4 linked regions of the Homo sapiens genome follow. The protein of the gene in region 3 binds, or shares a complex with, the protein of the main gene of each other region. Each region holds a gene or a part of one and is shown on either strand. Other genes may lie near its edges.

Region 1 (7,025 bases), on a different chromosome or scaffold from region 3:
TGGCCACCTGGTAGTCAGTTTTCACGTCTCAATTTAAATATCGTTCGTCAGGGGAGCCTTGCCCGCCTTCCCAAAATCAGAATAGGTTTCCGCCATGTATTCACCATACTCTGTACTCCTTTGTGGCATCATCATAATAGAAACTTAATTATTTCTGTATTTATTTGACAAATACTGTCTCCTCACTGGACTATAAGCTCCCTGAGCAGGGCCCTCTCATTTGTCATGTTTTACCCCACTACTTACGCAGTACCTGGCACATTGTAAGGGTTCAGTAAATATTTGCTGAATGAATGAAGGAGTGTATTCATGCACAGTGCTTCCAGCACTTCTCTGGGGACAGAAATAGAGAAATGAATAAAGCGGATATGCTTTCTGGATTGAAGTATATAAGAACTTTCAAATGAGCCATAATGCTTAGGCAATTTAGGTTATATGTAAAGGAGTCATTGACAGAATTTTAATATAAATTGTGGAAAAATGTTTGTTCTTTTTGGAGGTCTCTGAAATCAGGATTAATTTTCTAAGTGGAAATGATAAAGGAATCACTTTCATTTGCCGCAGAATTGCTGTGTAACACAGCATTTTAGAGACTTATCACTGTCCTGCTTTTTGCAAGCGATATTCATTATAACAAAATATAGACATGGAAGAAACTTCTAATGGACTCTTCTTCCCTAATGTTGTCTCGTTTTGCCCTAAAAACCTTTATTTCCTCTAGGTAGTAGTATTAATACTGTTTTATAGCTGAAGACATCAAGAAAATAAGTAAATTTACTTATTAAACTAAAAAAAGTTTAATTAAATTGCTAGAGTTTCCAGAACGTTGGTACTGGAACCATGGTTAGAATCTGGATCTATCTCCGTATTCTAGAATCCATAATTTTTTCTTTTTCTTTGCTTTTTTGTTTTGTTTCTTGCTTTTTAACCTTGCTATCTTCCTATGAATTATACCTTTAATATCACTTGATTTAGACAAGGTGGCTTTGTAAAATTGAGTAGTTTTTGTTTCAAAGGAACTTATATTTTGGGTTTCCTGAAAATTTTTCTAATACTTTTCTAATCTTATTTGCTTTATAGCTGGAGACTTAAGCATAAAAAGATTATTTTTAAAACATACAAACTGAATTTTAGGGATAAATTGTGTTAGGTTTTGGTCTTGGAAACAAGTTCTGCAGTCATTTGTAGTACCACGGTATGGCATAGAGTAAGGTCAACAGCCCTGAGTTTCTGTAGCCTTGTATGCCTTCATGGATTTACCAGTTTACTCTTCCACAAGATCTTGTCAAAAAGAGATTGCTGATAATTTGGCTTTAAAATTTGGTAATACTATCCATTTTATTATTAAAAACAAGTCTTTGCTAAATCCTAAACTTACTTTTTAAAAAGTCAGTGTTGATGTTACTTGAATCTTGGATAAAATTTTCATATTTACCTAGCATAACCAGTATGTGGAGGATAAAACTGAAATACTGCTTTTTATATGTTGTTGGATAATTAATATCATTATGATAGGTGTTACTAAGAATTTTAAGCCACTTACATGATAAGTAATTTTTTCCATAATATAAACTGTAAAAGTGATTTAGAAGTTAAATGTCATTGTTATCTATGTTATTGCATTTGAAATATTATAGTAAGCTGCAGTGTTAGAGGGTTATGCTTTAGGGACACACACACACACACAATGCAAAAAATGAAAGCACATTTATTATAGCAATTAGAAATAATTTATGTGCTGAAAGATAAACACTGTGGTTTGATGGTTCATTTTTGTCTGTATGAAGATGGTAATTTCAATTTTGTCATTTAAGCTACAAAATTTAAATGTGTCTTAAGTGTATTATATTACACTTATTTTTCAAGCTCACCCTTACATTTTTGGTTATGTATAACCATTTTTAAAATCACCCAAAAGTGATTTTCTGCTGTTCAGTTTCATTCTTATACAGTTGATAGAATCCAGGTTGCCTATAGGGTTAAAAGAAAAAGAAAAGAATTTTATTAACAAGCTTATGAACTATTGGGTAACAGCAGTGGAACATGTTAAGTGGTAGTCACTAACATATACTTAGGCTGGTCCCTTGGGAATAAGTTTACCAGAGGTTAGTCTAAATAATGACTTTTTGATTCATTTACTTATTGAATGCATATTACTTGTGAAATTGCCTTAAACCTTCTTTGGAATGAACTGGAACCTAATATAATAGCTAGCATTTATTGAGTATTAAGTAACTAAGTGCCAAGTCTCATGCTAATAAGCATTTTACAGGATCTCTTATAATCCTTACGACAACCCTTCGAGGTAGAGGCACTATTATCTCCAGTTTTTAAATGAGGAAACTAAAGTACAGAGAGGTTAAGGAACTTGCCTACGGTTGCAGGAAAAATTGCTTGGAATTAGGATTTGAATCCAGGCTGGCTGACTCAAGAGACCATGTTTTTCATCATTATAGTAAAAATGATGTTAGTGATTGAACTGCATTGGAGAGAGAAATTAGCATTAAGAGTTGTAGTTACAGAGCAGTTATGTCTTAAATGCTAAGGTCAGTGTGGCAGGCAGAAATTACTTAATATTCAAACTTTTTAAAAAACCTATTAGGAAATACACGTTGTAGACTAACAACTTCAACACAGCCAGTTTTTTTCTAGCATTGGAGTAGATTTCTTTTGAGTACCAGGTGAAGTGTTTGACTTGTTATGCAGAGACCATATTGAAAAAAGAAATATGTATATTATAATACAAGAGTCACAATCAGTGTGGCAAGCTACTCTTTGTGAGAGCTCACTGTGGCTCTCAGTCTGGTGTGGGGAGTGGCAGATCCACGTTTCTTATCTGTCTCATTCTGGGACTTTTGCATAGGGAATGGAATTATCACATACTGCAGTAGTTATTTTTAGTGAAGTTATTTTTTTGTTTGTTTTCTTCAAACAAATGTTCACCATGTCTGTTGAACTTGCATAGGGTAGGAGTATCATGTGAAGCAGGTACGCTCCCTGGAGTGTTAATGCCAAGTGGCAGTGTGACATGTCACTGTATTTCTTTACTGTCTCTCTTCCCTGCCAAGACTACATACCTTCAAGGGTATGTGCTGTTTGACTTTTCATCACCATATCTCCAACTAACACTGTTGCTGACTTAGACTGACTATGCAGAATACTGTGTTGGATACTAGGAAATAGAGAAATGGATACAACTTCTCTTTAGGGAGTTTATACTTCAGTAGATACAAGGGGAAAGGGTTGAAAGACCATTGTATGGACATTTAGTCTTTCTAATATACTAAGTACTTCCATGTGCATCAGTTCATTTTACAATTTTAGGTTAGAGCTGATAGAAAAATAAATGATTGTTTCTCTAACTGCCATCTGGTCCCTGGCACTGAAATGGGTCTCCCTGTCTTATTCAGTCATTCTCTCTTACTTCAAGATAGACTGGAATTCAACTGAGATTGAAGTTATGGAATGACAAAACCCTAAGATGTTACACACCGGCTGCCTCCTCAGACTTATATAAGGTTACTACAACAGAAGCCAGTTGGGAATGTTAAATGAGTCAGACCTGGCCTCTAGACAGCAACTGCACCCTATACGAGTTTAGATTGTTGCTAGGCTTTTTTTCATTTAATTCCAAAGCATTTGGAATCCTTTTTTTTTTTTTATTGAGAACTGCACATCTTTCTCTATGTCTTTATCCATATTAAAATCGGTATTTATGCAGTACTGTCAAAATTTGAGAGATTTCCAAGGTTCTACCTTATTTTTGGTATGCTCCCTTAAAAAATAAATCACACTTTTGCGAAGTGAAGGTTACAGGAGGAACAGTAGATGCAGTAAAAACAGATACTATCCTAGCCCTAATTTCTTCTTGTAAGAAATAGTATTTGTATTTGAGATCAATTGGGAGCTAAAGGTAAAGTTAAATGTCATCATCAAGATAGAACCTTGGCCTCATTAGCACCTAATGTTAAATAAGGCAGAGGCTATTTATTGTCTGGGGCTAATAGTTTCTGTCAACATTTGAGTGCCCTGTGGCAGTGTTTTTGGTGCAAAGAAATTGTGTAAAGTAATGAAAGTACCTGTTGCATGTTTTAGAGGATCTTAAGCCATTAGGAGTCATTAAGTTAAATTCTAGGTATCTAAGATTATAAGTGATACAAAGCAAGTAGCTCTGATCCAGGGTGGTACAGATTCTTTTAATTGTACCTTTAAGCAGAGAGGACCTAACACTCTGAGGAATTAAGTTTAGTTGAATTTCTAAGGGATTTTAAAGGAAAGCTTTAATTAACATCGTATTGGAGAAACTAAGACAAGGAATAATACTAATAAAAAGGAAAATAGACATGTACCTCAATTAAACACCAAACAACTATTCAACTAGGCATTATTCATGAACCATTAGGTTGAGAACTTTATGGGCAAAAGATGAACATATTCAAGGGGACAGATTTGTTTCCTGTCTTCCAACAAGTGTTTTCATTTAAATTTTACTCAGATCAGAATTTACCAAAAATTTAGACATAGGAAAAAAAAATGAGGATTGTCACAACTAAAGAGATGTATGTTTTTCCCCCTGAACAAGTTGCTTTGAAATATCGTAGGAGCCAATTGTTACTATTTTGTTACTGTTTCCATTTCCCATCAGCTAATTCTGAGGTAATGAGCTCTTTAATTTTGTTGTCAACTTTTGATTATCTTGTACAGATTATAAACCTTTTATGAATTATCTCAAGGGCTTTGATCACATCTTGATTTCAGTGTGCAACCCAGCCTGCTACCCAGCCTGCTTCTGGGCCATGGTTTCCTTTGTTAAGTTTATCTATGTACATTTAGAAAAGTAATTTTAACATTGGTTTGGCAAAAAGTTTTAAAATGCACCTGATGGCCAAATTCTTTTATGTAAGCCAAAACTAAGTGTATTTATGCATCCATTTTGGCAAATGGGAGATAAAAGGTTTTGAAAATATGCTATGTAGGTGGCCTTTATGACATTGTGATATCAGTGTTTGACTCTCATTGTGTATGTTATGCAGGGGCAGGACTAGGGTGAGGCAAGAGATATGCCTAGGGTACAAACTTTGAAGAAGCACTAACTCTCTCAGTCATGCAAATCAGAGCAAAATTTTGTGTTCTAGGCATCTGGTTTGCCTCACCCTAGTTGCAATCGATTCCATGTCAGGTTCCTAGAATTTTGGCTAAAATATTAATAACAATATGAATAGAATGGTTATTATGTGTTAGCCACTGTAGTAACTATTTTATATGCAGTTAGTACTCTTAATCTGGGGAAGTGAGTACTTCAGTATTTCTGTTTCTCACTAGTTTAGAAATAGAGATTTACAAAACTGAAATGATAGCATCCAGCTGAGCAAAAATTCAAACTGAGGTTTTTTTCCTTCCAAACTGAGCACTATCTCCTGCTGTATACTGTCTATCTATGTGTAGAAAAAGTTACTTCTTACCCATTTTATAAATTTCTGTATTAAGAAACAGTACTCTGGCCAGGCACAGTGGCTCACGCCTGTAATCCCAGCACTTTGGGAGGCTGAGGCGGGTGGATCACCTGAGGTCAGGAGTTTGAAACCAAACTGACCAACATGGTGAAACCCCCATCTCTACTAAAAATACAAAATAGCCAGGCGTGGTGGCAGGTGCCTATAATCCCAGTACTCGAGAGGCTGAGGAAGGGGAATCGCTTGAACCTGGGTGGAGGTACGCCACTGCACCCCAGCCTGGGTGACAGAGTGAAACTCTGTCTCAAAAAAAAAAAAAAAAAAAAAAAACAGTACTCTACAAAATATGTAAGTGCATACACTTGACATGGTGCAGTTAACTTTTAAGATGAGCTGGAAGTCTCAGCAGCACCAAGTTGAAGATCCACAAGCTTGTGCTGCTAAGTACCCTAGAGTTGTCAGACATATTAAAGAAGAAACCAAAGGATAGAGAGGTGAAATGACTTGTTCAGAGACAAAGATAGTTTATGAATGACAGGACCAGAATTTGAGCCCATGCTTTGAGACTTTAAATGCTTATGCTTTTTCCCTGTATCTTTCTGCACAAATTGTCCATTTAATATTTTTAAAGCATATATATATATATATATATATATATATATATATATATATATATATATAAACGATACAATGGTAAAGTGCTATATACACTTACCATTAACAAGAGATTGCTTCTAGATGTCCCTAAGTGTAAAATTCTGTAAGTACTAAACTGACAGTAGTGTATGTTCAGGGAGGTTAGGTTCCACTTAACTTTATTAAGAAAACTGGAAATGGAAGACATTGAATTATAGAAGATGTAATTTGCAAGTCAAGGAGAGAGATGTAGGTATATCCTTAAGACATCAAGCTCATTTTACTCTAAGTAGGATCACTGACTTACCCTATTCCTCTGCCTCCCTTTTTCCTAGCTTTCTCCTCTAAATCTTGGTCTCTTGTTTGGAAGTGACTAACAGCATTTTGGCATGAGAAAGCCCTAAAAAGGTACGTAAACTGTGTCAGCAAATGTTAACCCCACCCCGCTTTGTTAAATGGCCAGACTACCATCTATACAGTCTTTGTAAAAATCCATTTTCTCTAAGAGTTTGATGAGTGATTTTTTTTTTTTTTTTTTTTTTTTTCTTTTTTGAGACAGAGTCTCGCTCTGTTGCCCAGGCTGGAGTGCAGTGGCACGATCTCGACTCACTGCAACTTCCGCCTTCCAGGTCCAAGCAATTCCCTTGCCTCAGCCTCCTGAGTAGCTGGGACTACAGAAGCCCACCACCGCATCTGGCTAGTTTATGTATTTTTAGTAGAGATGGGGTTTCACCATATTAGCCAGGCTGGTCTTGAACTCCTGACCTCAAGTGATCCACCTGCCTTGGCCTCCCAAAGTGCTGGGATTACAGGCATGAGCCACCGTGCCCAGCTGATGAGTATGATTCTCTGTGTTATATTATTGAGAGAAAGCAAGGAATTGTCAGTTAATTGAAATCCTGGGTTAACCAACTCTTGGGGAGGACCTCCTTAATT
Region 2 (7,025 bases), on a different chromosome or scaffold from region 3:
AACTAGTTAACATGTATTTCCAGGTTACTGATCCAGCAAAATTATAAGAAACATTAAAATTCTCTGAAAATTTCAGTTTTTTCCCTTTTTTCAAAGAGAAAAACAATTATAGGAGACTTCTCCTGGCTTCACAGTTTCTGGATGCTGTGTTTTTGTTAACTGTAACACTTTGAAATAGCATTTGCTAAAAACCTTTTTTCTTTCTCTCTTTTTTGGTGATGTGGCAGAGAGAAAGACATTGAGATGTTCCTTGAGTCCAGCCGCAGCAAATTTATAGGTTACACTCTAGGCAGGTGAGTAAAAGCCGAGTTCATTTTGCTGTTAGCTCTCCCGGCCTTTGGTGTTTGGGATCCCAGGTGATTTGATGTCGAGGCTCAACACAGGGCCTTCTTTATTCTCCAGTGACACGAACACAGTGGTGGGGCTGCCCAGGCCAATCCACGAAAGCATCAAGACTCTGAAACAGGTGAGTGGCTTTGGGTGAGCTTTTGGCTTGTTTGGTCCTAAGTGAGTAGAGTGAAACCAGCCTGTAGGGAGAAGCCTTTTAAGACTGTTGTCTGCCTGCAAGAACCTGGGGTAGAGGCCGGGGTGGACTTTGCAATAACCTTGCAAACAGTCTTTCGTAAGTTTTGCTTGTTTTATTATAAGTTTTACTTGTTTTAGCTGAGCTTTTGTTTGGGACTGACTGGGAAGTCTTTAAAGATTATATTACCTGACCACCGGGCACCAAGGCATGCACCTGTAGTCCCAGCTACTCAAGAGGTTGATGCAGGAGGATTGTTTGAGCACAGGAGATCAAGGCTACAGTGAGCTATGATCATGGTCCTGCACTCTAGCCTGGGCCACAGAGTGAGACCCGGATTCTTTAAAAAAAAAAAAAAAAAAAAAAAGGATTATATTACTTGACAGTTGTTGAAATTCTAAAGAGCTCAATAAATAGCCCTCCTTTTCCTTGCCCACGTTCTCAGGCGGTTGAAATAGAGGAGTAGGCAGATGGAGATTGTAATGCCAACTTTATAGCTCATAGAGCCATGGAGAATGAGGCTTAAGAACACAGCAGTAGTGTCCTAATACGTTGTTCCAGAATTAGGCAGAGTTACCTACCAGTCCCAGGCAGTGTGGGGAGGCTCTGCCAAGCTTGGTGGCGGGGAGGAGAAGAGAGCAGACTCTCAGCAGGCAGACAGGTTCTAAAGAGAAAAGAGAAGGGTGAGGACAAGTCCGCCCTGTGTCCCCTCCCATACTCTCCGATCAGAGAAGGGAGGAGTGAGTGTGTGGACGGGGCAGAGAGAGATGAGGGGTGTTTCGCAAACCCCTGTCCCTCCACACGGGAGAGAACATTAAGAGTGGGGAAGAGGCATCTCCCCTAACAGCTATCTGGAGTGAAACTGTTTTTATGTTTTTGAAATATATTTTTGGAATTTGTAGTACTAAGTGGTCTCTCTGCAGCTAGGCTTTTTGAGTACTTGATTTTGCTTTCAGTTTTTCTCCTGTTGCTGTAGCTATCTGAAAGGCCATTTCCCTCCTTTAATTTACTTTTTTCTTATCTACCATGGGCTTCTTACTGTAGTTGCAAGAGGAAGGGGCCCTTTTAGAAAAATATTTTGGGGCCAGGCATGGTGGCTCACGCCTATAATCCCAGCACTTTGAGAGGCCAAGGTGGGTGGATCACCTAAGGTCAGGAGTTCAAGACCAGCCTCACCAACATGGCAAAATCCCATCTCTACTAAAAATACAAAAATTAGCCAGGTGTGGTGGTGCACACCTGTAGTCCCAGCTACTTGGGAGGCTGGAGCAGGAAAATTGCTTGAACCTGGGAGGCGGAGGTGGCAGTGAGCCAAGATCATGCCACTGCACTCCAGTCTGGGCAACAGAGGAAGACTTCATCTCAAAAAAATAAAAATAAAAAATATCTGGGGTTTGGGATTTTAGCTAGGGATTTTTGTGGTGACTTAATCCTCTTTCAGAAGACTGTGTTTGAAGACAAATGTGTGGGGATTTTGCTAGAGTGCAGGGAGTTTGGCCAGAGAATGTTTTCCCCAGCCCTTCTTTTCCCATCTCTCCCACCAGCACAAGTACACGTCGATTGCAGAGGTCCAGGCACAGATGGAGGAGGAATACCTCCGCTCCCCTCTCTCAGGGGTAAGTTGGAGGTCCTCAGTCCGGGCGCGGTGGCTCACGCCTGTAATCCCAGCACTTTGGGAGGCCGAGGAGGGCAGATCATGAGGTCAGGAGATTGAGACCATCCTGGCTAACATGGTGAAACCCCGTCTCTACTAAAAAAAAAAAAATTAGCCAGCCGTGGTGGCGGGCGCCTGTAGTCCCAGCTATTCAGGAGGCTGAGGCAGAAGAATGACGTGAACCCGGGAGGCGGAGCTTGTAGTGAGCCGAGATAGCGCCACTGCACTCCAGCCTGGGCGACAGAGCGAGACCATCTCAAAAAAAAAAGTTAGAGGTCCTCTTCAGCCCCCGGGATCCCCAGCTCTTCCCAGGCATTGTGCTGGGATTAGACCACAAGGTTGCCCCAGGCCCTGCCCTCAAAGAGCTCCCAGTCCACCTCCCAGTGCACAGGCTGAGACACGTCTAGTGCAGGGTTAAGAATACAGACTGAGTCAGGAACCTGCCTCTGATGCCTGGGTCCACCACTTTATGGATGGCAACTTAGGCAAGTTACTGGGTCTCTCTATGCTTTATTTCCTTGTCTGTGAAATAGGAATAATAATACCTTTATAGGGTTATAATAATAAGGATGAACTGAGTTATTACAAGTAAAATGCTTGGCACATTGTTTGTGTTCAGGGTTTGCTGTTATCATCATTAACATCATTATGTACATCACTGTTTACAGGTTTTCCTCCAGCCAGCTAGGAAGCTGGCTCAGGAGATTGTATTCTGGGCTGGGGTTTTATGCTTGTACTCATTATGTTAAAAGGGAGAAGAAGAAGTTGAGCAAGTCCCTGCAGAAACCCTCTACCAAGGCTTGCTCCCCAGCCTGCCTCAGTATATGGTGAGTGGTGCCTGCAGTGGGACACTCCCACTACACTGGCCTTAGAGCAGGCCCTGCCGTCCTCCTGCCACCTGCAGACCAACAGGAGGACTGCTCAGAGCTTAATTTTGACCCTGGGCTCTCAGACCTGTGTCTGAATGGTCTACTCTTCCCAGATTGCCCTCCTGAAGATCCTGTTGGCTGCAGCACCCACCTCAAAAGCCAAAACAGACTCAATCAACATCCTAGCGGACGTCTTGCCTGAGGAGATGCCGTGAGTATCATTCTGTGAATGAAGCAGGTGGGGCAGAAGATAGATGGAGAAGGGCAAACATTTTCCTCTTGTCAGGTTGGTTGTTGTTGGCCCAGCTCTACAGGTTAAATGTAGGTATTTTTGACCCAAAAAAAGGAAACTACGAGATTAAAGAGTTTCACTGGTTGGGGAGATGGCTTGGTCCTGTTGGCCTGGATTCTAGTGTAGACTCTACCACTGAGCAAACTCCTGAGTGAATTGGGGAAAGTCATTTCCTCCTCTGTAAAATGAATGGGGCCACCCTGGACATTTCCCCAAAGCCCCACTCTCCAGCTGTGATTGAGACACCCAGGATGAGGAGGGTTAGTTTGTAGACAGCTTGCCAGCAACAGCTGAACCTGTGCCAGGTATAGAGACATCCCTTTTCGCCAGTGATTGGGCACGCAGAATGCTGGCAAATGTCTCAGGGCGATAGAGTGAGATTCTTCAGAGCTCTTCTGCCCTGTGCCCTGTACTTGTCTTTCATGTGAGAGTCCAGATTGAGATCATGTTCTACTTTGAGAAGGACCTGGACCTTGACCTGATCTTCTGCCTGCCTGGGCCACCAGCCCTGAGCCCAGCTCCTGGGTGGCTGTGGCCCCGGAGTATGGCAGTGATGGCCGGCTGAGGGAGGAGGCAGGGGTTGGCTAACACCAGAGGGAGGATCACAGAACACTAGGCCATCATGTGATGGTCCTTGGAAAAAAGGTTCTAGAGTCAAATACTGTATATTTGATTCATGGATTTCTCTTATAAGGAGGAATTCCTCTTACAAAGATGTACAATGAGAAGTCCTGAATTAAGAAACCAATGTAACTCAGTGCTTCCTAAATTTATCTTACTCCAAAACCCTTTTTTTCCATGACATGAAACTTGCCAATATCCTGGTATTCCACAGAACACATTTGGAGAACTCAGGTTAATATGGCAGCAGAAGCTTAGGGGAGATCTTGGAAAGGAGAAGAAGTTCATTTTTGGAGGAAAGGCAGAGAAACAGACTGAGAATGTATTTGAGGGCATCATGGGGAAGAAATAAATTGTGCGAGGCTACATTGCTTGGGAGGTGGATGGGGGAGCCCTCGGCTGACTTCTGAGATGTCCTTGGGGTGAGTGGGGAGGTAGGAGTCTTTGCCCAGGGAGGCTCCGGAGTCCATCTTTTCTGTGGGCACCTAGAAATGAGGTACTGCGCATGCTGGTGGCTTACCCAGGCAATTATGTTTCCAGCACCACAGTGTTGCAGAGCATGAAGCTGGGGGTGGATGTAAACCGCCACAAAGAGGTCATTGTTAAGGCCATTTCTGCTGTCCTGCTGCTGCTGCTCAAGCACTTTAAGTTGAACCATGTCTACCAGGTACCCACAGGGCTTTCCCTCCTGTCCTGTGGGCTGGGGCCTCGGGCACTGCTGCTCCTCCAGCCCACAAGAACGGGGGCCTTGGCCTTTGACCCACTTGAACTCTGCATGAATGTTCTAAGACATGGCCCTTCAGCCAAGGCCTTTCATCCCTGGAGGAAAGAGGGCAAGGTCCCAAGGGCCGCGCCTTTTTTTTTTTTTTTTTTTCCTGTTGGCTTCAGTTTGAATACATGGCCCAGCACCTGGTGTTTGCCAACTGCATTCCTTTGATCCTAAAGTTCTTCAATCAAAACATCATGTCCTACATCACTGCCAAGAACAGGTGATGAGGGCCAGGGACCATGAAGGGGTGGATATGGTCAGACGGCAGAGTTCCCAGCTGGTATTTCCCACTGTGTCCATTTTTCCAGCACCTACGAGCCAGCACTGTGCTAGGCATCAAGACATAAAGATAAATGAGACATGGCCTCTGCCTGTGGAGAGCCCACTGTGTCAAATCTGAGTCTAGCTAGTCCTGCCCCAGGTGACTTGGTCTGTGCCTGGGCAGGAGGGTTTTCATCCCAGGATCTAGTACTTTCCTCCCTGTCCCTTCTGTACTTTTTTTTTTTTTTTTTGAGGAGTCCATGGGCTGCTTGCTGTCTCTAAGGGGCTCGGCCATGTGCCTTGTAATGCCCTATCTGCTGACTCTTAGCCCCTGCTGTTGGCCTGGTGCCAGCTGTGCTTGACATTACTTGCTCGTCAGTGTGATATACCACAGGGCGCCGGCCAGACCCTGTCTCCAGAAAGGTTTGGCATAAATTAGTTGCCCTGAGCTATCTCCTCCCCCGCCCCACATTGATTGCTGTGGGGGAAGCTGTGAGGGTCTCTTCCCCTTACAAGATCAACAAGCTGGCCTCTGGCTACAGGGGTGCTTTACAAGTTCTCTTGTAACAGATATTTCCTCATCTTATAGGTGGGGAAACTGGGGTGGGACACATCAGGTAGATTCCTACTTCTGCTCCAACAAGTGAGGGAGGAAAGCTGGGAGCTGGCTCAGGCACGGCTGCTCCACCAGGCCCTGGGCCTTTGCTCATGGTGGGCATCTGGTTCCTCTCCCCTCTGCAGCATTTCTGTCCTGGATTACCCTCACTGCGTGGTGCATGAGCTGCCAGAGCTGACGGCGGAGAGTTTGGTGAGTGGCTGGGCTCTCCTCAGCTGTCCTTTTGGCACCAGGGTCAGTGGGTAGAGAGCCTGCCTACCCCAACACTGCAGGAATAGAGGTGTCTCCCGCAGGTGAAATCACTGTGGAGTGCCCGGCTTTTAAAGCACTGTAAGTGTACAGAAGGGCCAGGAGGAGGGCTCTTGCAGAGCAGAGAGATTTGGATTTAGGGATTAGTCAGGGAGTGTGGTCTTCAGGGGCTGCTGATCCAGAGCTCACCTAGTAGAGGGCTTCTCTCCCTCAACACTGGACTCGGCAGTAGGAGCTCTGGGGCAGCCCAAGGCCACAGCTCCCAGTATCATGGTTCATATTTCCTGCAGGAAAAGTCTAGGGAGCCTCCCTCTTCCCCTAGTCCCCTGCCAGCTTCTGGGATGGAGTCCTGGGGCTGCTCTGAGAGCAGGGGATTCCTGGTAGAGGCCTGGAGACCCGGCTGTCCTGAGATCATGTGTGAGGGACTTTTGGAAACTGCTGCACACACTGCAGCCATGAGGGCTGATTGTTCCTGGGTTTACCCTGCAGGAAGCAGGTGACAGTAACCAATTTTGCTGGAGGAACCTCTTTTCTTGTATCAATCTGCTTCGGATCTTGAACAAGCTGACAAAGTGGAAGCATTCAAGGACAATGGTAAGTGAGTCAGTGTAGTCAGCAGGCTTGGAACTTGGAGCTCAAAGAAGAGTGCTGGGAGCAGGGAGTCCCCAGGGTGGGGCTCACTGTGCCTTCTCACTTAACTTTGCTGTAGCCGTATCCTTGCATTTTAAGGGCCAATTCCCAGTTCCTTGATGAATTGAACTGGAAGCTGGAAGAGGCCCAGTCATGCACTGAAACAAATCTACATTTATAGAAGAACTTTTTCCATGTCGTCTTAATCTTGATTGGTAACATAATCAGGGTTCTGAGAATCTTCCTTAACTCTGGGTCTGTGGATGCCTTTGGGGTGGGGAGGTCCTTGAATCCTCTGATAACTGTGTGTACATGTACACCGGAATGTTTCTGGAAGGAATCCATAGCTTTCTTCAGATTCCAAAGTGACACATAGTTAGGGTGACCAACCATCCTGGTTTGTCTGGAACTCTACTGGTTTTAGCATTTAAAGTCCTATGTATCAGGAAACTCTTCAGTCCAAGGGAAACTGGGATGGTTTGTCACCCTGACAGTAACTTCCAAAGGGTTAAGCAGCAGTGTGACCTGGGATGTATGCATT
Region 3 (7,025 bases):
CAAGGCCCCACATCTGTCTGTCTGTCCCACACCTGTGACACTTTATAATCAAATTTCCCCTAAGTCAGTCTTCCCCTTCAGACTGCCTAGCTCCATGAAGGCCAGGAATGATCCGAATTCACTGGCCCAGCAAATAGCTGGTGCTCAGCAAACATGTTTGTGGGATGAGGCAATCTGGATCCCTGTGGAAGGAGCACTGTCCTGAGAGTCACAGACCTGGAGTCTTGTCCCCTTTCTGCCTGGCTGGTAGTGTCACTCTGATCAGTTAATTAAACTTTCCGGGGCTGGGCGCGGTGGCTAACACCTGTAATCCCAGCACTTTGGGAGATGAAGGCAGGCGGATCGCTTGAGGTCAGGAGTTCGAGACTAGCCTGGCTAACAACATGGTGAAACCCCGTCTCTAATAAAAATACAAAAACTAGCCGGGTGTCGTGGTGGGCATCTGTAATCCCAGTCCCTCAGGAGGCTGAGGCAGGAGAAATGCCTGCACCCGGGAGGGACAGGCTGCAGTGAGCCAAGATTGCGCCACCACACTCCAGCTGGGTAACAAGACTCTAGCCTGGGCGACAGACTCCATCTTAAAAAAAAAAAAAAAAAAAAAAAAAAAAAACACCAAAAAACCCCACCTTTTTGGGCTGTCTTCCCCTTTGTGAAAGGACAGCTTGATTATGTCAGGAACACCCCACATGTGCTACCCTTCTCTGCTCCTGTGGCACTTTCCTCCACGTAGCCTTAACTTTGCCTCAGAATCTTTCTCAAGGCAGCACTTTAAGATGCCATGTCAATCAACCAGGATTGGCACACGAAGCGAGACGCAGTTAGATGATCATAGAGATCTTATTGCTCAAACGCCCAATGGTTCCATCGGCCTAATGGAAACCTCAGCTCCTATATGCTTCCCTTCTGAGAGTGTCAGTGTCCCCACCAGTGGGACAATGTCAACGGTCGCTCATCTACCTCTGTGAACTTGTCAGCCACCATGTAGCGGACGCGCCAGGACTTGTCTTCAGCGGCCTGGCGCAGAGTGGGCATCACCAGGGCCTCCAGATCCTCCTGGGGCAGAAGCTGGGCGATGTTCACGCACGCCTCCACCGCCAGCAGCCGCACCGAGTCCTAGGGAGAGGAGAGGAACAGTGGGAGGGCAGCAGAGGCCTTGCTGAGCTCTGGGATTCTCTTTCATGGGCAGGAACCACCAGAAGGACGGGAGAGCAGAGGGCCAGGAAGCAAAACTCACCTGCTCGTCAGAGGCCAGGTTGGAGAACATGGGGATGATCTCACTCTTGACGTTGTCCAGCTCCAGCACCTTGGCAAACTCCCCCAGCTTGGAGGCTGCGGCCCGCCGCACCATGGGGGTGTCATCTGAGCACAGGTTCCGGAAGTACCTGGGAGTCGGGGACGGGGATCCTGAGGCAGCAGGCAGTATGGCAGAGAGGAGCAAGCACAGACTCTGCAGTTGTGTGGGTCCAGGTTTTAGCTGAATGACCTTGGGCAAGTGATGACCCCCTCTCTGTCTTCCCAGCCCTATGAAACGGAGCTGATAGTAACAGTACCTACCCCACAGGTCCGCATGAGGTTTAAATGAAAATAGTGTGTGTGAGACACTTCGCAGATTGCGCATAATAAATCTAGTCAATGCTAAGTGCTGACGATTACATCATTCCCATAAAAATTGCTTAACCAACGAGCCAGGCACAGTGGCTCATACCTGTAATCTGAACACTTTGGAAGACCAAGGCAGGAGGATTGCTTGAGCCCAGGAGTTCAAGACCAGCCTGAGCAACATAGTGAGACCCCATCTCTGCCAAAAATAAAAAATGAGCCCAGCGTGGTGTTGCACACCTGTGGTCCCAGCTATTTGAGAGGCTAAGGCAGGAGGAATGCTTGAGCCCAGGAGGTTGAGGCTGCAGTGGGCTATGACTGCACCAGTGCACTTCAGCCTGGATGACAGAGCGAGATCCTATCTCAAAAAACAAACAAACAAAAAACTGCTTAACTAAGAGGCAGGTCTAGAGCCACAGAAAGGCTTTATTTTTCAGCAGCAATTGCTTCGATCAAAGGCGGTGGGGGCCAGTGTAAGTATCTAAGCAAGTGTACAGCCATAAACCAGAGTTCTGGAGTGAGTCAGGCTCAAACCCGGGCTTGACGGTCAATCGTTTGCAAAGTAGACGAGCAGGAGGCTGAAAACTGAGGTGGTTTATCTGCCAAAGGCACTGGACCTGGGACAGGCTGGAGATACCATCAGATGTAAGTTGCTGAAAGTTTTTATGTTCCAGATTTTGCTCTAAGCACTTTATGTGTGATAATTCTTTTAAATCCTCACATTAACCAGTGGGAAGGAGGACCTGTCATCATCTCAATTCCTAAGTGAGCAAGGGGGCAGAGGTGGGTAAACTGACACGTGGCCGTGTCCAGAGACCAACTCTCGAGGATGTGGCCTATCAGGTGGTAAGCAGGAGTGGGAGTGGAGAGAGTTCAGGGGCATTTGGGCCCCAGCTAGACCAAAAGGAGTCTGAGGCTTTAGAGAAGGTTGGAGCTGAGATGGGAGCTTGGAGCTTCCAAGGAGGCAGAGACTCACTGTCGAAGTTCCGCCTTCACAGCACTGGACACTCGGGGGTAGCAGACGGAGAAGAGGCCGCAGGCCGAGGTGCGGGAGGTGAACCAGTCGCCGCCCGCCAGCCGCTTCACTAGCGGCACAAAGTGCGCCTCCAGGTCAGAGGGCGAGTGCTCGTGTGAGATGGCCCGTAAGGACTCCACTGCCTTGTCCCGCACCACTGTCTCCTCCACTGTGGCCAGCGACTCCAGCGGTGGCTGTGGTGAGAACACAAAGTCACTGGACAGCTCCCTCTCCACCATCCGCAGCCCTGGAGCCCCATCCTGCACCCCATCATGGGCTCATCTCCTCAGAGAAAACTTCCCTATTACCCATCCCGACCTTCATTAAAATAGCCTTTAAAAATGGTTGCAATGAATGACTCAAAGGAAAAACGTAATATTATGCCAGCCAGCAGAAGGTCTCTGTCAGCGTGCCTTCCACAAAGGTTCTTATTTAGGGGTCCTTGAAGGAGTTTCACTGGGGTCCATAAACCTTAAAATTACACACGTTGCTTTCTGAGGAGAAAGTTCTTAGCCTCTCAAAGTGCAATGATCATCACTGACACTGTGTAGAACATCTACTCACTGTGTGTACTAGGCAGGACCTCCGTGTTGTACCAGGGGTGCTTGTTCTTCCTCACTGAATTCTATAAAGCAAGTCCTGATTTTAAAGAAGAGAAAACGGGCCGGGCGCAGTGGCTCACGCCTGTAATCCCAGCACTATGGGAGGCTGAAGCGGGTGGATCACGAGGTCAGGAGTTCAAGACCAGCCTGGCCAATATGGTGAAACCCCGTTTCTACTAAAAATACAAAAAAATTAGCTGGGTGTGGTGGTGCGCACCTGTAATCCCAGCTACTCGGGAGGCTGAGGCAGAAGAATCCTTGAACCCGGGAGGCAGAGGCTGCAGTAAGCCGAGATCGCACCACTGCACTCCAGCCTGGGCAACACAGCGAGACTCCGTCTCAAAAAGAAAAAAAAAAAAAAAAAAAAGAAGAGAAAACTGAGGTACAGCCTGGCTTGCCCAAGCTAGTAATAGCTACAGGTCAGGATCGAAAACCTGACCTAAGCTTCCCATGAACAGTTACACACAGCTCTGGTGACTGAATTGGGATCTCATGTTTCTGGGGGACTATGGGGCTCGGGACTGCTCGCTGGTTGTTACTGTGGGCCTAGAATGACTGTGCTCCTTCAGATACATACGACTGGCTCTCCACTGTATCCCCAGAGCCCAGCAGCACTCTTAGCACAAGACAGGAACTCTTAATTAGTGACCTACTGAAGGGAGACTCAACTTATCCCAATATGTTCAAATAAAGGTGTGGAGGTCTCTGATCTGAAATTCAACTTGGGCTGACAGGTATTTAAAGCAGGAAAAAAAAAATCATAAATGGAAATGCCTCCAGGGCTCAGTCAAGTAACAGAATGATGCCATCAGCCAAGGTGACAGGCAGGGGTGGCAGGAGGCATGAATAGGAAGAGGCAGGCACTGTGGCACCCTGGAGGGCATGTAGCCCAGGGAGGGCAGGTGCTCCCCAGCTCCAAGGACTGTCACTATGGGAGAATGCAGCTGGCAATAAGCAAATCTGGTTTTCCAAATGCAGCCCTCAAAAAAACTCAAGAATCTTGTATGTGAGAAGTCTCATGTAACACATGCTACAACATGGATGAACCTTGAAGATGTTATGCCAAGGGAAATTAGCTAATAGTCATAAAGACAAATATTTTCTGATTCCACTTATATGAGGAATCTAGAACAGTCAAACTCCTACGGTGGCTGCCAGGGGCTGGGGGAGAGGGAAGGGGGAGCTCATGTCCAATGGGTTTGGAATTTCAGTTTGAGGAGGTGAAAAATTCTGGAGATGGAGGGTGATAATGGCTGCACAATGTGAATAAACCTACCGCCACAGAGCTACACACTTTAAAATAATTAAAATAGCACATTCTATGTATATTTTTACAGTAAAACTAAGAATAAAAACAAATGTTTAAAAATAGCATTTAAAAATAGTTGCAATGAATGATTCAAAGGAAAAATGTAATACTAAGCAAGCCAGCATAATGTCACTGTCACAGGTCCTCATGCTATCGTGACGTCTCAAGTTCAGGACAGTATCATGGGAGTGTGACCATAGGTGCGGTGTGACTGGGATACTGCAGGGACAGAGTTCCTCTTGTTCACCTCAGTTCTCCCACCACCTGGGCTGGCACAGAGAAGGTACTCAATCAACACTTGCCAAGTGACTACCGGTGGAACTTACGGCAATCTGTTATAAGGAGGCCTGGGACAGAGGCTGAGCAGTAATTATGTAAGCCAAGGTTCTCTTCTCCTGTAGGTTACTGCAGGAAGTAGTTCTCAAAGGATGATCCCTGACCACCCTGCAGCAGAATCACCCGGAGGCCTATCCCAGCATGGACCAAAACAATCAGAATATCTGGAGGCAGGGCCCAGGAAGGTACACATTTAAGAAACTGCAATTGATGCCTTTGCACAGTGAAGACTCACTACTGTGAAGCCTCTCTGTGAAGTCTGGGGGCAAGGGTTCTCAAACCTGGAGACCACACAGGGTAGGGAAGAGTGTGAACCGCCTAAAATCCTGTGTACTTTTATAAGAAGAGGGTCCAGAATTTAACAGATTCTCAAAGGGATCCATAATTCCAAAAGAGTTAGGAACTGCTGGCCGGATGCGGTGGCTCACGCCTGTAATCCCAGAACTTTGGGAGGCCAAGGCAGGTGATCATTTGAGGCCAGGAGTTCTAGACCAGCCTGGCCAACATGGTGAAACCCTGTCTCTACAAAAAATACAAAAATTAGCCAGGCATGGTGATGGGTGCCTGTAATCCCAGCTACTTGGGAGGCTGAGGCTTGAGAATCACTTGAACCCGGGAGGCAGAGGCTGCAGTGAGCTGAGATTACAACACTGCACTCCAGCCTGGGTGACAGAGCGAGACTCTGTCTCAAAGAAAAATAAAAATAAAAAGAGCTGCTGACACAGAAACAACCCTCACACCCAGGCACGGTGGCTCACACCTGTAATCCTAGCACTTTGGGAGGCCGGGGTGGGTGGATCACCTGAGGTCAGGATTCCGAGACTAATCTGACCAACAAAGTGAAACCCCGTCTCTACTAAAAATGCAAAAATTAGCTGGGTGCGGTGGCACACGCCTGTAATCTCAGCTACTCGTGAGGCTGAGGCAGGAGAATCACCTGAACCTGGGAGGCAGAGGTTGCAGTGAGCCGAGATCCCGCCACTGCACTCCAGCCTGTGCAGCAAGAGTGAAACTCCATCTCGGGAAAAAAACAAAACAAACAAAAAAACAATCCTTACACTGCAGCTACAGGAGTCTCTGTAATTAATTCCATTTCACCACTGCTGAGAGCAAGGGCCGGGAGTGGGTCTGACACATCTCTGGGTTTCCATAGCCTAGAGACCTTGCTCAATGTTTGTGGAATGAAGAAACTACACAAAGCCATTTTCTATTTCTTATAACCTGTCAAAATCCAGGTTAACAGCCACCTCCTCCAGGAAGCCTTCCCTGACAACTTCCCATCCCACCTAAGCAGGTTAGGCGCCTTCCCTGGGTTTAAGGACCCCCCTGCCTCCCTTGTTTACAGCTCTGAAAGCAACCAGGAGCCCTCTGAGGATAGCACATAGGAGTGGCTAAGAATTAGGGGCCTGGGATCGAATCTGGACTCTGCCTCTTCCCAGCTCGGACAATTCACTTAAATCTGCCTGTGCCTCAGTTTCCTCATCTGGGCAATACAGCTAACATCAGTATACAACTGTGTAAGGCTCTTGGGATGTGCACTGCAGGCAACGAGCAAGCACAAGCTATTCTGATCTAACTCTTCTCTGGTTTCCAGCACTGCCTGGCCCAGACAGCCCCAGGATGTGTCTGCTGGCTGACATGAACGTCAGGCACATCGGTCACAGGGAACTGCTTCCCAAAAGGAAGCGTGGCTTGACTGGGACTTTCCTCACTGAGAATGTTCTGTTGGGAGACCCTGGCCAGGTAGGAGAAGGATCCCTGGGTCCCAGCCCAGCTCCACAGCAAGCCTGAGTCCCAACCTCAGTTGCAGACCCTGGGGGCCCTTGTTGAAGCCTTGCGGTTTCATAAAAATAATGTCTTCTGCTCCTAAGTCCTCTGAGAAGCTACTGAAAGCTATGAATTCACTGCTCAGAAGTTCCACCTGACAAATACCAGGCAGGGGCTACAGATAATTTTGTGAAATTCAAGGAACCCCTTCTAGGCTGGCCCCCAAACCTCATCATGCTCATGTTAAGCCCTGTTTTGTGTAAAATGTATGAAACGATCTATTTGTATACAATTTTCTGTGTGTCCATACGCACAAATTATACACATATGCCCAGATGAAGGCTGAGATATCCGAATTTAATGGTAACTATCAAGTTTCTTTACATAATGCTATTTG
Region 4 (7,025 bases), on a different chromosome or scaffold from region 3:
TTAATTACGGTTTTTAAAGGTACTTTGCTCTCTCTCTTCCCCCTCTGGACTTTTGCATATTAGCTTTTCTGCTTGAAATGCCTCCTGTCCTCCTTCCCTAACAATTCCCATATCCTGGCTAACATCTGTTTTTTTAGGACTCAGGTTAGGAGTCATTTCTTCTCCACCTCAAGCTGGATTAGATGTTTCCATAGCAACCAGTGCTTATCAGTATCAGTGCACTTATCTCTCTATAATTGGCTACTTATATATCTGTATCCTTTATAAGGTTTCAAGGCCCTGAAGAGCCAGAACTGTGCCCTATTCTCAGAATTATATCTCAAATGTTGGAAAAGTGCTTCACATATAGAAAACTACGGTCAACATACTCCCCCCACCCCCCCATTTTTGTGAAATGCTTACATTCTCTCTTGCATTGTTTAAAAACTGGCTGGGCATATTCCTGAGAAGCTAGAGATTCCTACCCACAACTCTGGGATAACTTACAAGGGACACAGACATCTGCACCTTTCTAGGACAGTTCCCACTCCATAACCCTACCTCAAGCTCATGCAATGGGTGGCTGGATTCCCTGAGAGAGGACAAAGAAAAGGCTGAAAGATGCTCATCAGGATTAAAAGGGACTTTGCATCCTTCCTTTGAGAGATAGGGCCTGGCAAACACCCAAGACCTGTGGAGAAGTGCTCCTAGCTGCTCACCTGGTAGATATGGTTGAGTTTGAAGTGTTTGAGGAGTAGCAGAAGCAGGGTAGAGATACTCTTTACAATAATCTCCTTGTGCCTGTTCACATCGATGCCCAGCTTCATGCTCTGGAGAACAGTGATGCTACAATGGGGAGAGAAGGTATTAGTGCAGAGAGTGGCCTTAAAGGGAGCCCTGTAGGGATCCAGGTATTTGGGTCTGATACAATATACACAAGAGAGCCAGAACTTGGGAAACTTGAACTTCTGTGCCAGGGAAACCTCCAGAGTTCCCACTTATGAGCCTATCTGAAGAAATGCTCCACTGATCTCTTTGTTTCCGTCTCTCTTTTGGCAAGCTCATCCCTTGGCAATGTTCACCCAAATACCTGGGCAGCCAGTCGCTGGCACTGGTGTCACCCTCCAGATCCAGAGTTCTGAGCTAAAAAGAGCCAAGCAGAAAGCCCTGTACGGGAAAGGGGGTACTGGTGGGCAGAGACGGGGAGATCTCTTTGGAGACAATCTCTGTAAGTGTTAACAAGGTGAGTGGGGACTAGAGAGAGCCTGCAGATAAGACAGCTAGTATCCAGCAGCTGCCCCCGTTGAAGCACTCACGGCATCTCCTCAGGTAGGACATCTGCCAGGATATTGATAGAGTCTGTCTTAGCCTTAGAGGTGGGAGCTGCAGCCAGCAGAATCTTAAGCAGAGCGATCTGAGAAGTAGAAAATAAAGAAATTTACCACTGTCAAACCCACTCAGCAAGGAAGTGATTCTTCCACACCCTAACCGCCCTATAAAAAGTGTTTTAAAGCCATTCTGTAAGTTCTTCCCTCAATGACCATATCTCCCCAGCATCCAGAAAAGCAAACAGGTGCCCAGTCCTGACAGGCCTGCCTGTGAGGCTAGGGAGAAAGCCAGAGGGAGTGCATTGGCTGTTATGCTTCAAGACTGTTCTTTCCAGGGCCTGGCATGGTGGCTGATGTCTGTAATCCCAGCACTTTTGGAGGCCGAGACAGGCAGATCACTTGAGGTTGGAAGTTCAAGATCAGCCTGGCCAACATGGTAAAACTCCATCTCTACTAAAAATACAAAAACTAGCTGGCGTGGTGGCATGTGCCTGTAATCCCAGCTATTCGGGAGGCTGAGGCAGGAGAATCACTTGAACCTGGGAGGTGGAGGTTGCAGTGGGCCAAGATCGTGCCACTGCACTCCAGCCTGGGCGACAGAGTGAGACTCCACTTCAAAAAAAAAAAAAAGACTGTTCTTTTCAAAGGGGAAGATGGAAGGAACAGAGTGGGAGGGACAGTGTGTAGAAATAAGGTGGGCGGCATAAACCCAACTTCTCCCACTCTTTTCTTTCCTCTAACCTGAACCATTGGCATCTTCCCCACTCCCAGCCTGAGGCTATCTAGGACATGACAGACCACAGCAGATCTCAGAGGGACTACAGTACTTATCTCGGAGGAGGGTCCCCAGTGTATCCTGTAGAGACCCCAACTTATTCCCCACCCTTCCCAAAGAAGGACTAGGGAGAACAGCACCATCAGAGGAGCACTGAGGAAAGCTCAGAATTTGCATGTGTCAGAGAATGCCTTGCCAAAGGGGCAAAGGCTCAGGAAACAAGCTCAAGTGTTGGACAGGTCCACTTGAAATGGTTTTTAGCTGTCTGTTCCTTGCAGCAGAGAAGGGCAGCTCTGGCCTAGCCATCTCCTTACCATATACTGCGGAAGGCTGTACAGCATTCCCTGGTAGAGGATTTCACATGGCGTCTCTGGTACCACCTCTTCCCCCTATGGCAAGAAATACATGGTTTGGCAATGCCACTTTCCAGGTGACCAAAGGCTTTTTTTTCTTGGTTGTGAGGGGTGACCTGAAAAGAGCACTAAGCTGGGAGTCAGATCTAGGTTTCTACCCTAGCTGTGTTAATGACTCACTGTGTGACCTTGGTTAAGTCACATTCCTTTTCTGAGTCCTAGTTTTCTCTTTAATAGGACCATCAGGTTGGCCTGGATGACCTTTCAGTACCTGGGATACTGGAACAGATGCTACAGAAGCACTTCCTATGGTGTGGATCTGAGGCTGAAAACTCTAGAACGTTCTGTAAGCCTGGAAGGAGAGGTAGGTGGCTCAATAGTGTGGGTTTAAAAGGAAGTTGGGTAACCTATGGACTGGAGAAACAGGAAGGAATATTAGCAAAGAAGCTTTTAAGTGGATGGAAATGATTTTCTTCCCCTCTCCATTAGCCCCTACATCACTTTCTCCTTTCTGACCAGCTCCCTCATATACAACTATCTCTGTCCTGTTGATGACATTAACTAAGCCTTTTATCAGAGTGGGGAGGCTGGGGTCTCAGGGACCCAATAAGCTGCTCAGGCCACTGTCATCTTTGACCAATGCAGTTCCCTTCCTCCTACAAGGTCCCTCTATTACAGGGCAAGGGGCCACTGCCATGAGACCCTGAGGCAGGGAAGAATAACCCGCCTCCCTCTGTCCCACACAACTAATCTGCTGCTTAAATGGACGTAAGTCCTAAATGGACATTCAACAGAGCCTGGCAATCCTGGCATGTTTGCCTTCCTGCTCTCCAAAAGGCTGATTTCATACCATCTTCTCTCTCCTCAAACCAACTCCTTTGCCCACCATCCCTAAACAGTTGCTGACCCTGCCTCACGCTTCATGGAGAAAACAGAAGCAATCAGACAGGCACACACTCATCTTCTCAACACCAAATCTACCAAGAGTCTTCTTCCTTCCTTCTTGACATGAAGGATGAACCGCCTGTGCTTCTAACAAAGGCCAGTCTCCTACTTGTGCTCAGGATCCCACACCCATTTGCTTTGTTGAATGCCTCAGTCCTGCAATTATCCCCTCTCTTGGATCACTTATTTTAGGAAACAAAAAATGCTCTAGTATCTCTCAGCTATAAAACATCCTCCCCTTGACCTCACATTTTCCTTCAGCTACCATCCACTTTCTCTCCTCTTCACAAAACTTTTATATCATCTACCTCCTTTTTTGACATTCCCTTCAATACACTCCAATTAGGCTTTCAGTCCCACTACTTCACTTAGAGTTGTTCTTATCAAGGTCACTATCTTCATGTTGCCAAATCCAATGGGCACCTTGGTTCTTACCATAATGCCACTTATTAGTAGCATTTTACCCAGCAGATCACTCCTTTTTTCTTGAAAGACTTTCTTAGCTTTTATGATGATATCATAATCTCCTGGATTTCCAGCCACTTCACTGTCTTTCATATTCTTCTGGCTCCTTTCCTGACACATCCCCCCCTCAACATACTGGTGTGCCCCAGGGCTTTGTCCTGCCTTCCATTCTCTTCTTTGTCTCTACTCCCTCCCTGGGTTATCTCAGCCAGTTCTACGGCCTTTAACACTGCCTATAAGTGTTACAAACAACTCCCGAATTTATTTCTCAAAGTCAGCCCTCTCTGTAGAATTCTAGACTTTATTTCCAATTGCCTGCAGCTCCACATGGGTATCTAATGGGCATCTAAAACTTAGTATGACCAAAACAGAACTCTTGATATTCCCCCCACATCCTGGCAAATGGTACTTATTCTTGATTCCTTTCTTTGCCTCTCTATCCACATCCAAATGCACTGCAAGTCTTGTCAGCTACATCTCCAAATCCAGGTCGGCATCATCTCTCACCTTGACTATTTCAAGGGTTTTCTAACTAATCTCCGTAGAGTGCGTCTATGCTTTTCTGGTCCAATCTTTACACAGAAGCTAATGTTTTTAGAAACATAAATCAGATCATATCACTCCCCTGCTTCAAATCTCCAAAGGCTGCCTTCCCTTTGACTGCGAGTCAACTTCAAGCTCTCTACCTTTGCTTACAGGTCCTCGGCAAAGTGGCCTCAGGCCACCTCTCTGACTCCATCTCTAGGATCCCAGCCCTCGGCCCTGTGCTCTAGCCACAACAGCCTTCCTTCACTACCTCTGACACTCTTAAGCCTGCTTTCCCCTTGCTAAGGCTGTTCTCTCTGTTTGGAATGCTCTTTCCTCTGATGCTCCTATGGCTGGATCCCTGTCCCTCAGATCTTGGCTTAAATGTCACCTTCTCAGAGGTCTACCTACTCCAACTGCCCAATCTTAAGTAGTCTACTGATGCTTCTTTCATGTCATCCTGTTTAAATTTTCTTCATTGTATTTACCATTCTCTGATAGTTTGGTTTACTTAACTTTTTATTTTTTATCTTTCTTCCCCAACTTCAATATATCATGAAAGTAGGGACCTTGTCTTGCCTGGAACACAGTTACAGCCTAATATGCTGAATGAATGCATGCACACATGCTCTGTGACAACACTGAAGACAGGTTTTCTTCTACTCTCCTCCTGTGTAGGGCTTCCTTGGCTCACCAAAGACATAGGGCACTTCTCCAGCTCCTCTTCATTCTTGATCTGCACATCTGCGATGGAGATATACTTGTGCTGACAAAGATAAGAAGACATCAACAAGGGCTGAGGGCCTCATTCACATGTGTACCAGTCTCTTACTTAAATTCCCCAAAAGCAAGGAAATGTTCTGCTTATGGGTTTGTTACCCCACATAGACATGAACTCTTTCAAGGAAGGAGTCTTAATCACCTCTGCATCATCAGCACCAGTCAAAGTGCTTTGTGCACAGTGTTTTTTTAAAATTCTGTTTCTACATTTGCTGAAGAGCAGCAAATACCTAAGCATTTATCTTCAAATAAAGTGCAAGGGGAAGTCAGAAACAGGCCCCTGCCCCTGGACCACTGCCCTGAGAATTTTGATGCGTGTGCACGTATGCATGGAGTGATGACTCCATGCATACAATGGATATAGAGCAGGCTCCTACTCAATCCTGGGCCTTTGGAAGTTAGTAGACTTATGGACAGAGAGAAGTGAAAGAAAAAGAAGCAAGGAATGGGAAGAGAGAGAGAAGAATGGGAAGAGGAAAAAGAAATGAGAGGAAGAAAGGAGAATTTTAAAATCTACCTGAATATAGGAAACTGAGTAAGTAAAGAGAGACCTAATTTTTCCTATTTGGCCAAAGGACTGCAGGAGGAATGCAGAAGGTCCAGAAAGAGTCTGGTATAAAAGCCCCACCCAGTATCCAGGAGCCTGGTAATCTGACCTGCTTTGATGGCTCCCTATCCCTGAAGACTGAGAGCCCACCCCAGTCACCTGCTTTAGGGTCTTCACACTCTCATGGATGGGCCTGGGTAATCCAACCAATGTATCTGTGTCCCTGTAAAAGGCCAGACATACCAGATCATAAGCTTCCAAAGTACGAGAACTACTGATACCCCAATACCCCCCTAGAGTCAACAGACCATGCTACTTTCAACAACATCTACCCCCAGTACCCTAGACCTTCCTCTGCAAGCTCGTAGGTCCCACATCAGTGCTTCAGGACACAAAAATAATAATGGTACACAGAAATGTTTCTGGAAATCAGGAGATTTTTATAGTCTTTTGGGTACTCACTTGGTGTAGGAGTGGTAGGTTCCTACTTAAAAGGGTATATAGCCCAATGACACCTTGACTATGAAACTCCACTAATAAGGACTCAATTTTCAAGAGGCCAGTGGGAAGGATTCATGAGGCTGGGGAATGGGGGAAGACTGGATCCGTTCTGACCATGTCTCTTGTTCACAGAATTTTAGCCCATTAGAGCAGGAAGGGCCCACAGAAACCATCTAACCCAACAACCTCAGGAAAAAATTAAGCCCGAAAGAGAAATGACTTGTTGCTCAAAGTCCTACAGTTGGCTAAAAACACAAAAGTTCTTTGAGGAAAAGTGGAAGAAACTCAAGGAAAAAAGAAATCCATAGAAAGAACCCAAAGTAGTCACTGGGAGTTGTCCATGGCCTAGGGGCTCTAGGTTACATTATGACCACCAGGCACCATCCCTCATTCCAAGCTACCTGCTCCTCTGGCCCCCTAGGAACCACTCTGTAGCCAGTTCCAGCCATTCAGTCACTTACTGCCCCAGGGTGAATCCGATGAACTTGTTCCTGCTCATCTCCAAGAAGTGCTCAATGTCCTTCTGTCTGAGAGGATGGTGGAAAGACCAATCCCAGAGAAGGGAAGAAAAGCAAACTTTGAGAGAGAAAAACTTTCCGGGCTCCTATCCCTCCAATCAGAGGACTGGAGCAGTGGAAAAAGGCAGCAATCAACAGAAGGAATTTCAAACCCAGGAGTTCTGACTGCCAGACCAACTTAACGAGCCTTGAATACATAGACTACCCCATCTTGGGCCTTTGGAGACTGAAACCCCGAAGCATAGGGGTCCCTGATGCTATCAAACCTACCTGACCTTTGGGGCCCAGGGCAGGCCCTTGGGAAAAGCC

Evidence for each region.
Region 1: PPP2R1A (region 3) and PDCD10 share a complex: the UniProt entries of both Homo sapiens proteins name them as parts of the core of STRIPAK complex.
Region 2: PPP2R1A (region 3) and STRIP1 share a complex: the UniProt entries of both Homo sapiens proteins name them as parts of the core of STRIPAK complex.
Region 4: PPP2R1A (region 3) and STRIP2 share a complex: the UniProt entries of both Homo sapiens proteins name them as parts of the core of STRIPAK complex.

The regions. Positions count from the first base shown.
Region 1 is NC_000003.12:167,724,873-167,731,897, reverse strand, and holds part of PDCD10 (programmed cell death protein 10), read left to right. Parts: intron 1-6,424; exon of another isoform or gene 6,425-6,497; intron 6,498-7,025. UniProt on the Homo sapiens protein: Promotes cell proliferation. Modulates apoptotic pathways. Increases mitogen-activated protein kinase activity and STK26 activity. Important for cell migration, and for normal structure and assembly of the Golgi complex.
Region 2 is NC_000001.11:110,044,613-110,051,637, forward strand, and holds part of STRIP1 (striatin-interacting protein 1), read left to right. Parts: exon of another isoform or gene 1-75; intron 76-227; coding exon 228-293; intron 294-402; coding exon 403-466; intron 467-2,067; coding exon 2,068-2,139; intron 2,140-2,929; coding exon 2,930-3,004; intron 3,005-3,159; coding exon 3,160-3,257; intron 3,258-4,499; coding exon 4,500-4,626; intron 4,627-4,847; coding exon 4,848-4,948; intron 4,949-5,730; coding exon 5,731-5,797; intron 5,798-6,343; coding exon 6,344-6,448; intron 6,449-7,025. UniProt on the Homo sapiens protein: Plays a role in the regulation of cell morphology and cytoskeletal organization. Required in the cortical actin filament dynamics and cell shape. Part of the striatin-interacting phosphatase and kinase (STRIPAK) complexes.
Region 3 is NC_000019.10:52,207,043-52,214,067, reverse strand, and holds part of PPP2R1A (serine/threonine-protein phosphatase 2A 65 kDa regulatory subunit A alpha isoform), read right to left. Parts: intron 2,809-7,025; coding exon 2,576-2,808; intron 1,383-2,575; coding exon 1,235-1,382; intron 1,114-1,234; coding exon 958-1,113; intron 1-957. UniProt on the Homo sapiens protein: The PR65 subunit of protein phosphatase 2A serves as a scaffolding molecule to coordinate the assembly of the catalytic subunit and a variable regulatory B subunit.
Region 4 is NC_000007.14:129,458,412-129,465,436, reverse strand, and holds part of STRIP2 (striatin-interacting protein 2), read right to left. Parts: coding exon 6,987-7,025; intron 6,726-6,986; coding exon 6,660-6,725; intron 5,921-6,659; coding exon 5,857-5,920; intron 5,137-5,856; coding exon 5,065-5,136; coding exon of another isoform or gene 4,940-5,064; intron 2,850-4,939; exon of another isoform or gene 2,788-2,849; coding exon of another isoform or gene 2,707-2,787; intron 2,472-2,706; coding exon 2,397-2,471; intron 1,394-2,396; coding exon 1,296-1,393; intron 826-1,295; coding exon 699-825; intron 1-698. UniProt on the Homo sapiens protein: Plays a role in the regulation of cell morphology and cytoskeletal organization. Required in the control of cell shape. Calmodulin-binding scaffolding protein which is the center of the striatin-interacting phosphatase and kinase (STRIPAK) complexes.